Linked DNA regions of Homo sapiens. The protein of the gene in region 2 interacts with the protein of the main gene of each other region in a pairwise test. Each region holds a gene or a part of one and is shown on either strand. Other genes may lie near its edges.

Region 1 (4,372 bases), on a different chromosome or scaffold from region 2:
TCACAGACCTAAATACAAGAGCGAACATATAAAACTCTTAGCAGAAATGTAAAATAAGCAACCCACAGAAAGACAAATACCACACCATCTCACTTGTATGTAGAATCTAAAAGAGTTGAACTCATAGAAGTAGAGAGAAGGGCAGTTACCAGAGGATTGGTGTGGGCAGATGGGCAACAGGGAGATAAGCAAATGATATGAAGTTACAGTTAGACAGGAAAGATAGGTTTTAGAGATCCACTGCAGGGCACGGTGACTATAATAAATAATAGTGTATTGTGGGCTGGACGTGATGGCTCATACCTGCAATCCCAGCACTTTGGGAGGCCAAGGAGGAGGGTTGCTTGAGCCTACAAGTTGGAGACCGGCCTGGGCAACACAGTGAGACATCGTCTCTATGAAAAACAAAATTAGCATGGTGTGGTGGTGCGTGCCTGTGGTCTCAGCTACTTGGGAGCTGAGGTGGAAGGATCACTTGAGCCTCAGAGGTAGAGGGTGCAGTGAGCTGTGATCACACCACTGCACTCCAGACTGGGCATCAGAGTGAGACCCTGCCTCTTAAAAAAACAAATGGTGTGTTGTATATTTCAAAATTGCTGAAGAGTATATTTTAAATGTTCTAGTGACAAAAAGTAATAAGTATATTAGGTGGTAGATATGGTAATTAATTTGATTTATCATTTAACAAGGCAAACATACATTAAATCATCATATTTTACCCCATAAATATACACAATTATTCTTTGTCAACTTCTTAAAAAGATTCCTAGCAGAAAACATACAAGTAAGTCTTAATGACCTCGAGTTAGGTAATATTTTCTTAGATATTACACCAAAAGCACAAGAGAGAAAAGAAAGAATAGACTTCATCAAAAATTAAAAACCTATGCACTGCAAGCAATAGCATCAAGGAAATGAACACAATCCACATAATGAGGAAAGTATTTGCAAATTATATATATGATAAGGGATGAGTATCCAGCATATCTTCTAAAACTCTTACAACTAAATAATAATAAAATAAATAACCCAATTTAAACATGGAAAAATCTGAATAAACCTTTTCTCAAAAAGGAATACAAATGGCCAATAAGCACATGGAAAAGACACTCAGCATTGTTATTTACCAAGGAAACGCAAATTAAAACTACACAGGATATCACACCCACCCACCCAGATGACTGTAATAAACAGGAAAATAGAAAATAACAAAGGTTGAAGAATCTGGAGAGAAATGTGAGCCCTCATACACTGCTGGTGGGAATGTAATTGATGCAGCTCTGTGGAAAACAGTTTGCCAATTCCTCAAAAAGTTAAACAGAATTACCATGTGGCGTAGCAATTCCACTCCTATGTGTACACCCAAGATAACTGAAAACAGGTTCTCAAGCAAATACATGTATACATATGTTTGTAACAGCACTATTCACAATAGCCAAATGGTGGAAACAGCCCAAGTGTCCATCAACAGATGAATGGATAAATGAATGCTGATACATGGATACAATTGAATTTATTCAGTTGTAAAAAGGAATGAAGTACTAATAAATTCTATAATGGGGATATGCCTTGAAAACATTAAGTTAAAAAAAAAGTTACACGAAAGGTCACTTATAAATGGTGTGATTCCATTTATATGAAATGTCCCAGATAGGTAAATCCATAGAGACAGAAAGCTGACTGGTGGTTGCCAAGGGTGAGGGTAGAGGGGAAAGAGAGGAACAGCTAAATGGGCATGCGGTGGTCGGGGGCTATGGAGCCAGGTGACTCGGAGGTAAAAAGCAATTCTGGAAGATGACTGAGCTACTCTTCCTTCAACTTGAGAGAGGAAGGAAGAGAAGGAAGGAGAGGAGGGAAAAGACAGGGAGGGGAGAGGGGAAGAGAAGAGAGGGGGATGTGAGACAGAGGGACACAGGGAGATGGGGAGGGGAGGGGGAGGGGGAGAGGGGAAGAGGGGGAGAGGTGGAAAGGGTGAGGGGTGAGTGGGAAAGAGAAAGAGAGAGAGAGAGAAAAGGGAGAGAGAGAAAAGAGAGGGAGAGAGAAAGAGAGGGAGAGAGAAAGAGAGAGAGAAGAGAGAGAGAGAGAAGAGAGAGAGGGAGAGAGAGAGATGGTTGCCCAAAAAGAAGTTAGTGAACACAGCAGGCATTGCTCATCTTGATGGAATACACACAACAAAACTCAGTCCACTGCCTGGGCTGCCCTTACTTACCCAGCACACTCCTGGGGTAGTCGGTCCTCATGCCTGAGACACTGAACCTCATGATTTCCTGGCGCTGAGAGCCCAGGAACTCCAGGCAATAGTGCCTGGGCTACAGGGCTGGGTCTGGTTCGAGGGCAGGATGATCCCCTCATCACAGTCCCAACAGATTGCAGATCTAGTCTCCACTCCTGAGTGTCAACTGGCACAACCACAGTCCAATATCTGGAAGAGTCAGAGCTGATGAGCTGGCAGGGGACCTCTGGGAGCCCCCAACCCTATCCACAGTGCTATAATCCTCCCTCCTTTCTTCTCCCTCCACTCACCACACCCATTCTCACCTATGGTCCCTTCTGAGTCTGAGCCCAGGAGTTCAAAAATAAAGATCAGCTGAGAGAAGAATGACAGTGATTCTGGGGTCACCAGATCATGATCATGGGGCACAAGATGATGTCTCTGAGTTTCTTTGGTTGCTGTAACAGCTCAGAGCAGATTTTGGGACTGACTCTGTGTGCAGGTTCTGGGCATTGGGCTTGGCAGGTGAGGAAATGCAGGGAGGGCTCTGGAAAGGGTTAAGCTTCTGGAATTTGCAGGTGGGGAAGAGAGATTGCAATGCAGTCAGAGAGGACACGGGTGATTATGAGGTGGGAAACCAAGAATTAAATAGGGAAGAGAGAATTAAGTTTGAGGTTCAGAGGTACATTAGGGATAACAGTAGGCATTAGCTCAACCTGGGGCAAGGGTTACCTTACCGAAGATTCTGGGCACCATGGAGCTTCAGAGCAGCTGATGGGACAGCAGCAGTGCAAATGGGTCAGTGACTTTATACAGGGACTTATGTAGGCTATGAACTTATCCACATTTAGGGAGGTGCCCAGAAGCACTGGCCTCTTGGAAAGGGTGGGGCATGAGAAGCCACAGAAAGCATAAGAAAAAACTGCATCAACAGCTTAGTAAGATGTTCCTGGACCTGTTCCAAGTGACTGCTACCTTCTCAGACCTCTCGAAATCTCAGAGTAAAGGCTTCCCTAGAACCTTTCAAAGCCGTGAGTGAGTGTCATTCTTTGAACTCTGCCCACGGCAAAGAGACTTGAAAGAGATTCCTTGGCTCTCACTTATCTGAGAGCATACTACTCACCAAACATCACAGCTGGTGATGAAACTTCATATTCATCCACCCTGAAGTTTCAAGGGGTCCCTCTACTCCCCATCTCAGTCCGGCTCCAGACCTGCACTATGAGAAACAAACGCACCCGTCCAAACCCAAAGAATGGACTCAGAGACACAGAAAACAGTGGAAGCAAGACTTTTAATGATGGTCTTGCAAGATTGAATGTCTGGTAGGCAGGCACACCCAGTACGGTTACAACAAGCTATTTATCCCCTAGTGCACAAGTCTCTCCCCTGGTTCCTCGTAGGCTAAGTACGATGGGGTCACGATCTTCCCAGACGTCGCCTATTGGTTGCTGGGTTGAGGCTTTTAGGTGTTTTCTTTAGGATTGTCTCACTGCATTTTGTTGCAGCCTATAATACATTGCAATCAAAGCCAGCTCGAGGGCTTTTCAAGTATTTGACTTATGACCTAGGCAGTCAGGCAAGCTGATAAGAATAGATAAAGTGAGCTATTTTGCTGGCTAGTAAACTTTCATTCTAGACTAAACTCTGGTTTGGGAGAGGGTAACTAAGGGGACCCCGACAAGCATGCACCAGCTATGGGCCTAGTATATTCTGTCCTTCCATAGTTTGTGGGCCTCAGCCTATCTGAGGTACTTTGTCTTGGAAATGGACCACCATATCCATTATTATAATTGTAGACAGCACTGTCTATAATTCTTCAGAGTCATTTAGGGGAAACTGTGAAGATGCAGCATAATCTAGAAAAAGAGCAGGGGCTGTAAAAACCCTGCCAGGGAGAACAGAAAAGGAACAGACAGTGATAAAATAGACATCTGGGATTCATAGAATAGATGGAAAGGCAGCCCCTTTTTGTTGTTGTTTCTGGAGTGCTTTGTCCAAGGAAACGCTCCTTCTGTGTTTCTTACTGTTATTTTATTGTCACCATCACTATTATTTGTGTCACTGGATACCATGTGGGCTATTATTAGAATGCGCTCCTGTGTTTTCCATTGACTTCCTTCCCATCCCACAGTGAGATAGGTGGGAGGGTGAGACAGA
Region 2 (3,813 bases):
CTGCTTTGGCCATTCAAAGTGCTGGGATTACTGGGTGTGAACCACCACGCCCGGCCTAAAGATATTCAGTTGGTGCAAAAGTAATTGCAGTTTTTACCATTAAAAGTAATAGCACTAACCGCAATTACATTTGCACCAAGCTAATACTTTTTCCTTCTTTTTCAATAAGGAGCCTTGCATTTTCATTTTACACTGAGGCTCTGCAAATTATGTAGCCAGTCCTGCCCCTAGGACCTGCTTCAGGTCCTAGGGGAGGGGAAAGTTAGCCTTACTCCAAGCCTCAGAAATGTCTTTCCCAGAGTCTAGCTGTCCTCACTTGGGGACAGGCACCCACAAGAAGAAAGTACCTACACAGGGTGGCTCCACACAACCCCAAAGCTAAAACTGAGAAACCTGAAGCTAGAAAGGGTCTTGTGCAATCAGCTGGTTCCTGCCAGCACCCTTGTGCCAAGTCACAGATGATGCCAAGGGCCCAGCAGCCAGGGAAGGAAGACAGCCTAGTCCAGTAGCCAACAGGTATCCCAGTCCCAGATGCAGAGCAATAAGGATATGAAATGAAGACGCAGAGGAGGCCGTTTGAGCCTCCACCAGCCAGCTTCCTGCTTTGAGCATTGTTCTCAACAGCAAGCGACTGTATCCAAGAAGCCTGGGTCTAGGCACCAGCCTTGACAGGCCTGTTCCTGGCTGTTGAGCTTCTCTCACCTTGCTTATTCTCCTCCACCCCAATCTCCTTCCCAGTAAGGAGTTTTCCAAGACCTGGAATACCTAGAAAACTCATTGGGTCTCTTTAAAACACTGATTCCTCAAGAGATGCCAAGTGCCTACTCAGCTCCCAGCCCTGGGCTGGGTGCCTAAGTCACAGAAGTGGGGAATAAGATGCCTGCCTTCAAGGAACAGCCTTGGCACAGGCAAGGTGGCTGAGCCCCTCTTCTCTGCCATCTCCTCATTGCCTCATGACCTATTTAATGCCTGCTGTAGGGGGAACGGAATTCACAAGGTTCCATGAAACCCCTGAAGAGCAGCCCAGTGTAATACTCTAACTCCCATGGCCTCTTCTAGAAACTTCTCCCTCATAGGTCCCATGTTTGAAAAAGCTGTGTCTGCCAAATTGTATTTACTAATAATCAATGTCTTCAATTTCTTACTAATCAGAGACATGTACCACCCCTAATCAACATAGGAGACCAGGGGGTACTGCCCTTCCAAAGTACCTCAATCCCCAGAAAAAGCAAAGATGGAGTCTGGCCCCATAAGCCTTGGGGAAGCCTAACTCAGAGCAATGGCATATGGGCATTCATCTCCTTCAAGATGCATGGCCTGGGGTAGGAGCTACCACTACTACTGTGGCTATCACATGAGGGACCAAAGACCTATGTTCCAGTCCCAGCTCTAACACTTCAGCAAAATCATTGAACCTTCATGGACCTGAGTTTCATCATCTGAAGAATGGGGATGATTCTTCCCCTCCTGCCTCCAGGGGCTGCTATAAGGATCAAATAAGAAAAGACACAAGAAAAAAAACCATCTGCTATAGGAATGTCCAGGATTACGGCAAGATTCTATGTCTGTAAAACGAAACTAGTAGTAGTTCCTACCTCATCAAACTATTGTGAGAATTAAATCAATGACAGTTACAGAACAGTTCCTAGCATTTTTCAAAGACCCAAAAAGATTAGGCTGTTATATAATTATTACTACTATTATTGCTACTTCTGTTAATGACACTATTATCACAATTACTATTATACCTTGCTACCCAGCTAAGGGATTCATAGTAGAGAAGTGCTAGAGTACAAAAAGTCTTCGTTTTATTTATTTATTTATTTATTTATTTACAGACAGGGTCTCACTCTGTCATCCAGGCTGGAGTACAGTATCACAATCATAGCTCATGGTAAACTCAGACTCCTGGGCTCAAGCAATCCTCACACTTAAGCCTCTCAAGTTGCTAGGATTACAGGAGCATACCACCATTAATTTTTTCATTTTTTGTACAGATGAGGCCTCTCCGTGTTGCCCAGGCTGATCTTGAACTCCTGGCCTCAAGTGATCCCCTCGCCTCCGCCTCCCAAAGTGTGGAATTGCAGGCATGAGCCACTATACCCAGCCAAAAAATCTTTTTAAAGGGGTTATCAACATCACTTAGTCTAGAACTGGGAGAACCAACAGTAGATTTCTTATACATTTTGTCCCTCATTAATGCAAAATTGAACAAAAAGTGCAGAAATCAAAACAAAAATTCACCTGCCTAACCTCAAGCTTTTCTGCTTCAAGAAATGGACTCCGAGGCCAGGCACAGTGGCTCATGCCTGTAATCCGAGCACTTTGGGAGGCTGAGGCAGGCGGATCACTTCAGGTCAGGAGTTTGAGACCAGCCTGGCCAACATGGTGAAACCCTGTCTCTACTAAAAATGCAAAAATTAGCCAGTCATGGTTGTGCACACCTGTAGTCCCAGCTACTTAGGGGGTGGCCGAGGCATGAGAATCACTTGAACCCAAGAGGCAGAGGTTGCAGTGAGCTGAGATCGTGCCACTGCACTCCAGCCTGGGCGACAGAGCAAAGCTGTCTTTAAAAAAAAAAAGAAAGAAAAAGAAAAGAAAGAAAAGAAATGGACTCTGGAGAGTATTAAAACATTTGCTGGCCAGGCATGGTGGCCTGCATTTGTAGTTCCAGCTACTTGGGAGGCTGAAGTGAGAGGATCACTTGGCCCCAGGAGTTCAAGGCTGCAGTGAGCTATGATTGCACCACTGCACTCCAGACTAGGAGACAGAGGAAGATTCTGTTTCTTAAAATTTTTTCAAAAATTAAAATGTTTTAATCTGCTAAATATGAGGAGCAACTGAATACATCCTGTAAAACCTCACACAACTTTCCTGTGCAAGGAGCCATTAGGAAAAATAAAATCAGCCATGTCAATGCTTTGTCGCTCTCACTTTATGAGCCAGATTAGAGGAGGCTCCTGCCCTCAACACAAAAATCAAACATTCAGAAATGCTCACGGCAAAGCTAAGAAATCAGACAACAGTAAAACATTTTTCATGTGGGGGGCGGGGGATGAGGGAGAGAACAATTACTCCCAAAACCCTTAAGTCTCTCAAAAAATTGTCACAGAAGGACGTCAGAAGTACAATCACCTGCCACAGGGCCCTGCCTTTGAGGGTAGGGAACACTGTCACACATTGCTTTTTCTAGGCCTGGGAGGAGTCAGCCAAGGCCCTGGGGGCACAGGAGCTCACTGTAGGAAAATCATTAGGGACCTCACAGACAAGTTACCATGGAAGAGTCAGCAAAGGTGTGGAAGGCTGTGCTCCAGCCTCCAGAGTCCCACACGCGGCCTCACACACCCAGCCCAAGGCTGCACCTGGTACTTTGGGACACTTGCAGCCCTTCCTCCCGCCAAATGAATGATGGGCCCTGCCCCTGGGTGACGCTAGTGAGATGCAGGCCATGGATCCCATCCCTCTCACCTTCTTAGAAACACTGCTCCAGCAACTGCCCCGTCTCTTTACTGCAGCATCGACTTCTTCCTCTCAGTGGGATCATTCCCATCAAAACAAACATGCTGTACAATCTCCCACCAAAAAAAAGAACCCTCCCTCAAACCCACATCCTCTCCAATTACCGGCTAATGTCTCAACTCCACTTTGCAACAAAACTACCTGGAAGATTTGCCTAACTGACTCCCTGTCTTCACCCCGTGTTTTATCTTCCACCTACTCCAGTCAGATTTTGTCCTTTAAGGCTTCTGTGACCATGCATTCTCCTGGGGTTTCTCCTACCTTCTCAGTCCTTCTCAGTCTCCTTGCTGGCTT

The links.
Region 1: the proteins of PLEKHA7 (region 2) and IGFL2 interact in binary tests that used the Homo sapiens proteins (3 or more experiments, as listed by UniProt).

The regions. Positions count from the first base shown.
Region 1 is NC_000019.10:46,146,875-46,151,246, reverse strand, and holds the start of IGFL2 (insulin growth factor-like family member 2 isoform b precursor), read right to left. Parts: upstream 3,010-4,372; 5' UTR 2,969-3,009; coding exon 2,950-2,968; intron 2,423-2,949; exon of another isoform or gene 2,262-2,422; coding exon of another isoform or gene 2,210-2,261; intron 1-2,209. UniProt on the Homo sapiens protein: Potential ligand of the IGFLR1 cell membrane receptor.
Region 2 is NC_000011.10:17,007,819-17,011,631, forward strand, and holds part of PLEKHA7 (pleckstrin homology domain-containing family A member 7), read right to left. Parts: intron 1-3,813. UniProt on the Homo sapiens protein: Required for zonula adherens biogenesis and maintenance. Acts via its interaction with CAMSAP3, which anchors microtubules at their minus-ends to zonula adherens, leading to the recruitment of KIFC3 kinesin to the junctional site.